2 linked regions of the Homo sapiens genome follow. The protein of the gene in region 2 interacts with the protein of the main gene of each other region in a pairwise test. Each region holds a gene or a part of one and is shown on either strand. Other genes may lie near its edges.

What was found.
Region 1: the proteins of B3GALT2 (region 2) and SNX22 interact in a two-hybrid assay, tested with the Homo sapiens proteins (one large-scale study listed by BioGRID and IntAct).

Annotation. Positions count from the first base shown.
Region 1 is NC_000015.10:64,150,063-64,154,530, forward strand, and holds the start of SNX22 (sorting nexin-22), read left to right. Parts: upstream 1-1,668; 5' UTR 1,669-1,713; coding exon 1,714-1,788; intron 1,789-2,180; coding exon 2,181-2,264; intron 2,265-2,575; coding exon 2,576-2,680; intron 2,681-3,182; coding exon 3,183-3,277; exon of another isoform or gene 3,278-3,324; intron 3,325-3,589; coding exon 3,590-3,622; intron 3,623-3,872; coding exon 3,873-3,940; coding exon of another isoform or gene 3,941-4,089; exon of another isoform or gene 4,090-4,318; intron 4,319-4,324; coding exon 4,325-4,446; 3' UTR 4,447-4,468. UniProt on the Homo sapiens protein: May be involved in several stages of intracellular trafficking. Interacts with membranes containing phosphatidylinositol 3-phosphate (PtdIns(3P)).
Region 2 is NC_000001.11:193,177,975-193,180,981, forward strand, and holds the end of B3GALT2 (beta-1,3-galactosyltransferase 2), read right to left. Parts: coding exon 2,320-3,007; 3' UTR 756-2,319; downstream 1-755. UniProt on the Homo sapiens protein: Beta-1,3-galactosyltransferase that transfers galactose from UDP-galactose to substrates with a terminal beta-N-acetylglucosamine (beta-GlcNAc) residue. Can also utilize substrates with a terminal galactose residue, albeit with lower efficiency.

The sequences.
Region 1 (4,468 bases), on a different chromosome or scaffold from region 2:
CTAGAATCTGGGAAGTTTCAGCTTCCTGATTCTGTGGTCCTTGTGTGATGCAATTTGGAAAAAGAGAATGTGGGACATGATATTGGTGAGACCTGTTTGCCCCATTTTGGGGTCGTCATCTCAGCCCTTCTCTGGGGGCAGGGCTGGGGATGGAGGTTTTTTGCTCCAGCTCAGAGGCGTCTCTGCAGAAGCAGGGGAGGGGTGAGTCCCCTCAACCCCAGCCCCGAAGACAGGCACTCTGCTTCCTCCTGCCCACCCCAAGACCTCCCACTACGTATGAGCTTTGGAAGGCAGGGCCTCGCCTCTCTGCATGTCACGGGGCCTTTGTGGGGGAAGTCAGTGGAGTAGAGGACCTGCCATGGTGCTGCTGATAGCAGCTCTCCGACAGCTGAAGGGTGCAGGGCTGAGAGGTGGGAGCAGAGGTCCTTTCCAGCACATGGCCTGAGAGAGTTCTGGATCAAAATCCTGCCACATATCCAGGAAGAACCTGCCCGGAGGGGTGGACAAGAGCAACCCGGTGCCACCCCCCAAAGTCTCTCTTCCCATCCACTGCCCTGTGCCCACTTATCCTAGTCATCCAGGAGAAGCCCACAGTCAAGCTGCTGCTCAATGCTTCTGTTAAGGGCCTAACATGAATCATCTCACTTTTTTTTTTTTTTAAGACAGAGTCTTGCTGTTGCCCAGTCTGGAGTGCAATGGTTTGATCTCGGCTCACTGCAACCTCCGCCTCTCAGGTTCAAGTGATTCTCCCGCCTCAGCCTCCTGAGTAGCTGGGATTACAGGCATGTGCCACCACACCTGGTTGATTTTTGTATTTTTAGTAGGTACGGGGTTTCACCATGTTGGTCAGGCTGGTCTCGAACTCCTGACCTCAGGTGATCCGCCTACCTCGGCCTCCCAAAGTGCTGGGATTACAGGCGTGAGCCACCGCGCCCGGCCAAATCATCTCACTTTATACACTTGCCTGAAGGAGCCACGTTATCCCTATTTTGCAGATGAGCAAAGGTCTACGGAGCTCCTGAAATCCAGGCAGTCTGACGTCCAAATCGGAGTCTAGGTCCCTAAACTGCCTCTTCCCCACAAACAGCCTGGAGCCCCTTAGGGTTGGAAGATATGAGTGAATGGATGGATGAAAACAATGAATGAATGGGGGGGCCTGTGGATGCTGGGGAAAGGGGCATCAAAGCTGGACTGGGTCCAAGCCTTGCTCAGGTGTGGCCTCAGCCGGGGAATCCAGATCACAATTTCAGGGACCAGGCTGAAAGGAGGGAAAGGCTCGGGAAGGGACTGAGGAACCCAAGACAGGTCCCTGGTTGGCCCCAGGACCGGCGCTGAGGCCCGGGCCCCGCCTCCGTCCGCGCCTGGAGCCACAGGCCGTCCTTGGTAGGCGCTTAACTCAGGTTGGGTGACATTTTCGCTCGCCAGTTCCTGGCATCAGTGAGTGCTCCGTCAATGTTTGACAAACGGTTGACTCCACTGCCCCGCGCTGTGGGCGCACTAGACTTCGGGGGCGGCGTCCAGGTCCCGCCTAATCTTCTAGGCTCAGGACCCGCGGCGCAAGGGAACGCCCGGGGCGGGGTCGCCTGGGGGCGGGGCCTGGGGTGGGGCCTGCGGACCGAGGGGGCGGAGCCGGCCGCCCCGGGGTCCTCAGTCCGCTCCGGGAGAGTTAGGGCTCCGAGCCGAGCGCGCGGAGCAGCTGGGGCCGGGGCGCGGATGCTGGAAGTTCACATCCCGTCGGTGGGGCCCGAGGCCGAGGGGCCCAGGCAGAGCCCGGAGAAAAGCCACATGGTGAGCGCGGCCCCTGGATGGGGAGGGGCGCCGGGACCCGCAGGATTTCCCCGCGCTGCGCTCAGTGGGGACCCGGGGCCCGGGCCTGGGTGAACGAGCGCTGCGGGCTGGACCGTCGGGGGAAACCTTGTCGAGGGTTTGGGGGCCGCTTGGATTTGCCAGCCTCGCGGACCATGGTTCGAGCTCTTGAGGGACCCCAGGGCTCCGAGGGGCAGGTCCGCCAGCCGGTTCTCCCAGGTGTGCGGGAGCGGAGAGTCCCCGGGCAGCCGCGGCGCCGCAAGGCCGCTTTGTGCCTTTGAGAGCGGGAGGGTGGGCACGTCGCCAGGCGCAGGTGCTGCGGCGTCCTCCCGCGGGGCCTCACGCGCAGACCCGCTGCCCGCCCGCGCCGCCAGGTGTTCCGAGTGGAGGTGCTGTGCAGCGGGCGCAGACACACGGTGCCAAGGCGCTACAGCGAGTTCCACGCGCTGCACAAGCGGGTGAGGCGGCGCCGACCTCCCACCGGCCCCGGCCCAGCCTCTGTCCAGCCCCCGCCCAGGCCCTGTGAGGCGGGCGGGCGAGCCCCAGCCTCCGCCACCCCCATTACTGCCTCAGTCCCTGCGCAGCCGGTCAGCCCCCGGGCCTCTGTGGGTGGGTTGGGGCCTTCCTCGCCCTCGGCCGGTCCACCACTCACCAGGGTCTGTCCCAGTAGAGCCCGAAGGCGGGGGCGCGGGAGGGCTTCTGGCTGGGGCGAAGAGGGCTTGAGGGCTCAGTCGGGATGCTGTGATCGCACGCGGTAAACCTCCAGTAGATCAAGAAGCTGTACAAAGTGCCCGACTTCCCCTCGAAACGCCTGCCCAACTGGAGGACCAGAGGGTTGGAACAGCGCCGGCAGGGCTTGGAGGCTTACATCCAGGTATGCGAGAGCACAGTTGGTTGCCCCCCGGCCTTCTGTGCCAGGGGTGTGGCCCAGACAGAGAGGTGTGGGGGCATGGCAGGGAGGGAACCCACAACTTGGGGATGTTATTCACCACCTCAAGCATCAATTTTCTGAGTCTAATATAGGTCCAAACACCCCCCTCTGGCTTGTTGAAAGGACTGAAAGAGGTAACGGACACAGGTAGTCCCAGCTCCATGAAACCCAGGTCCTGTCCCCTCCATGGTGAGGTCCTGTGCTGCCCTCCTGATGGCATGTAGGGTGAGGGTCCTTCCCCCAACAGCAAAGCTATGCCGCGTCATGGGGTACAACCTGTGCACACAGCGCCCAGCGCCCAGAAGGGCCCTGAGCCTGGTTCAACGCTCTGCTGTCATTGTCGTGAAATTCTTTTTTTGGAACAAAGAGCCCTGCATTTTCACTGGCACTGCGCTATGCAAATTAGTAGCTGGGTCTGATTGCAGGTCTCCTCTGTCCTCTCCAGGGCATCCTGTACCTGAACCAGGAGGTGCCCAAGGAGTTACTGGAATTCCTGAGACTTCGGCACTTCCCCACAGACCCCAAGGCTAGCAACTGGGGGTAAGGGGGGCCGATGGCGGGGGCCAGGGGCTGTCAGCAGTGAGCAGGTGAGGAAAGGTGTTGGAGGGCAAGCCCTTTCTTTTCACATCTGCCAGGATCCAGCATGACCGCCCTCACCAGCTCTCTTGACCTGGGTGGAGGGGCTTTTTTTTGGACAGACTTGGTTACCCCCGCCACCTCCGGAACTGGGGCTTGTTACAAATAGAAGCAGTGGTCCCCTGGGAGGTGCAGTTCTGGGCTCTGGTGTCTCCACCCCTTCCTCACGCTCCCCCGGCATCCCCAGGCAGCTTACAGTGTTTCTCTTCTCTTCAGCACCCTGAGGGAGTTCCTGCCTGGCGACAGCAGGCAAGTCAAAGCCCTAGCCCGCGCTTGGCCCCTGCTGCCCCCTAGTGGCCATATGCTAGGAGGCAGGCCTGCTGCCTGGGCCTGTCTGGCCTGGGCCCTGAAGTCTGTTTTCCCTTTGGTGCCTCCTGAGCCCATTTCCCACTCACCTTTTCCTTCATGGGTCCCTGGTGATGGCAACCCCGTCTCCACCCCTCTGTGGGATTCTGCCCTGCCTCCCGCACCCATGGTTCATGACCCTGTTTCCTCCCAGCTCCCAGCAGCACCAGCGGCCTGTCCTGAGCTTCCATGTGGATCCCTATGTTTGCAACCCCTCCCCAGGTGAGGAGGTGCCTAGATATGGGGCTACAGGGCTGGGTTGTGGGCTTTGCATTTCTCGGCTCCTGGGACCCTCAGACAGCATCTCCTTCCTGCTGCCCACCTCTGGAGCCACTACCTCCTGCTCCTGTCCCCTGGAGCCTGCTTTGTAGACACAAGGAAAACAAGTTTGGCTTCCCTGGTCTCCATTTCTTCAGCAGCCTGACTTCTTTACCAAGCTGATGTGAAAAGAATGTGACCTGGGAATGCGGAGGCTTCATTTGGGGTGGACAGCTGCTGTCTGCTGCCTTGGCAGGGGCTCCTACTCCCAAGTGGGGGCTGAGCCCATGAGCAGGAGCTCAAGGAGCTGCAGGTCTGAGGCCAGACCTGTTTAATTCTATCCCACAGAGTCGCTGCCCAACGTGGTGGTGAATGGTGTGCTCCAGGGCCTCTACAGCTTCAGCATCAGCCCAGATAAAGCCCAGCCAAAGGCGGCCTGTCACCCTGCTCCTCTGCCACCGATGCCCTGATCAGTCCAGAGGCCTTTGGCTG
Region 2 (3,007 bases):
TTTGTGTACCCTTTGACCAAAAGCAAAGCTGTCATTTAAAATTATATTTTTATGTATATAAAAATCACATAGTGTCGGGATGAAGAAGACACAGTTAACAAGTGGTGAGATGTTTATATACACTATCAGCTTATTTTGCTTAAGAAAACGACTTGAGTATTGTTGCGGAAAAGTCAAAAGTAAATTAATAGAATATTTATTTTAAAGTAAGGATTTTCAACAGTACAAAGACACTTTACTGTTTGATCCAGTCGCCTTTGAGAGCTCACAGTGTCTGATATCAGATTACTATCGTTTTTCAAGATAATGTTAGGAATATAGAAATTTACATAGATTTTATAAATTTTATAGATTTTAAATTGAAACTTGAGATAGGAAGAATTTAGGTGTCTGTTATCTGTTTTTCATGAGTCATTTTTTAAAAAACTTTTTCCAGATGGAAATTACTATCTTTTAAAGATCCTGCAAAATAGTCATAATTTGGACAAATAGAACTTGAGTTCTCTTTCTATGTACACACCTGTGTATGCACACACACACACTGTTTTTAAAACTTTTGAAGCATAAATCAGCATTATTCTACACTGAGGGAAGGATTCCTTTTGTCTTCTGTCAAACATGCTGATCTGATTTGGTATTATCCCCTTATGTGTGACTTTTATTAAGTAATTCTGGTATTTCTGTAGTCATATAGAATAAATTAAGTGAAAGACAGGCTTGATCCAAGAGCTGGGGTGTGTTACATAGATCAGCTCTCAGAATCACTTGATTTAGAGTAGAACACTTAGGCTACTGATTTGAAATGGAGATAAGCACTTAAACAGTTTTAGTGTTTTCAAGTTTCACAAATGTTACAATTCTCTTCTGGTGATTTATCCCTTAATAATAGAATAAGAGGTAAAAATGATTGTTATTAGAATTAAGAAACATTCTGACTAAATTAAGATTGACAGATTTACATACTTGTATGGAATAAAAACACTATTTTAGTTAGTAGGTTGGTATTTCTTGATTTTAAAATTCATGATGGAGTCAAACAAAATTATTGTGAAAATACTTATAACACTCAGTAAAGTTTTTTGTTTTCCTTTATTTTTAAAAACTTCATAAAAGTGCATTGTATACATTGTTCATCCTAGAATTGTGTTTGTCAAACGTTTGTAGTTTTCCCCATCCCTCCCAAAAAGGTTTTTAATTGGTGATTCAGAATATTTGTCATCTACCAAATTAAAAACTGCAGGTTTGCAAACTTGGCACTCCAAGAAAGAAATAGGTGCCATAAAATGATTAAGTGTTGGCATGTGTACACCTGCTGTCAGGAAATAAACTTCCCGTATGTTGCATTTTGGCAGACATGCATCTTAAAAATGTGTTGAATGAAACTGCACCTGCACTCTTTATCTTTTTCAACAGTACATCCTATTTGTGCCTTTAAGTGATTACTTTTGCTTCGATTATCTTTACAGATATATTCGAAGTTAGATATACATGAAATTAAATGGTGGTGCTGTTTAAGAGTGCAGTAATTGGTCTAATCCAATAACTCATTGAAATAGGAGTTTGGTTCTTAACATCAATGAGGAAACAAAACTTGTCTATTTTGAAACATTTAATAACTATAAAAACTTGAGCCTGAGACACATTAGTTTTTCACATTTTACCACGTCATGTCAAAATAATTTTCCCCCATATATTAATAAAAGAAAGTATTAATAAAAGAAATTTAAAATAATATCTCAGTTATTTTTAAAAAGTAAATACTTTCGTGAGAACTGCATTGATGAAACATCTGAACTTTATAATGTGTTTGTGGAATAACTCAACTAAATCTTATTGCATTTAGAACCCTAAAATAGGTCAAAAAATTTATCCTTTGCACAATTAAAAAGTTTCCTTAAAATTGATAGTGATGTTTTATTTACATTAAATTATATATTAAAATGAAAAGCTTAATCTAAAATGAAGGATCTTTTGACTGTCATTTCTTGAATTAAAATTTATGTGGAAAACATATGCAGATACATTTTATTGGCCCCTAACAGAAGACTTGAACCATTGATTTATGCATGCTTGTTATTGCATGTTAATACACAGAATCTCCTTATACAGTTTTTTAAATAGATTGTTTTGGGAAACCTTTTTTGTTATATAATGTTATAGTTTTAAGAATTAACTTCTTCAGAAATTAAAAAAATACTTCTTGAATTTCTTTATGTGATGAGTTTTAACTAAAACTTGTCCTACGGATGTAATCAGTTCTAACTATACATGCTTTTAGCAATATTTACAAATTGCACATTTGAAAAAAAATTGTCTTTTCTAATGTAGTTTACGGTGGCGATACCTGCCTGCCTTTTCTTTTGCTGCGTTGGCACAGGCATTGTGCTTATTTTGTTGTAAATGGTTCCAGTATTTTATCAGTTCACTAGGCTGGAACTGATGAGAGGTAATTAGGTGGCTGTATTTACAGCTCGAATAAGAGACTCGCCAGTGATTGAACACAAACTCATTGGGAGGGGGTACAGGATCAATTCTCAACTTGGCAAGACAGATCCCTACATATACATCTTCCAAGTGCAAACGGCGGATACCTAAAGAAACTTTAAAAATCTTTTCTGCCAGATCTCCAGAAAAAACATAACCAGTTCCAGAACAGAAGACAGGATAACGCTCACTTGGGTAGAGGTCTGGTGGCATGTACCACTTGCTATCTTTGTTTCGATTGGGTGCATATCCTCGCATTAGGTAACCAGTGAAATAGTTATGTCTGGGAGGCAGATCTGGCTTCAGTAACTTATTGATTAAATATTCAGTGTTGACAAACATGTCACTGTCAGTTTTCATAACATATGGAATATGTGGACAGTATGTTGCAACCCAGTTCATGCCCATTAGTGTTTTAATGGTCAAATTATAGTACGTATCTAAGTATTCCTGTTGAATTATATCATGATATTGTCTGCTTTCTTCCAGTATTGCACGTTGAAGGTAGCCATTTAGCTTAATA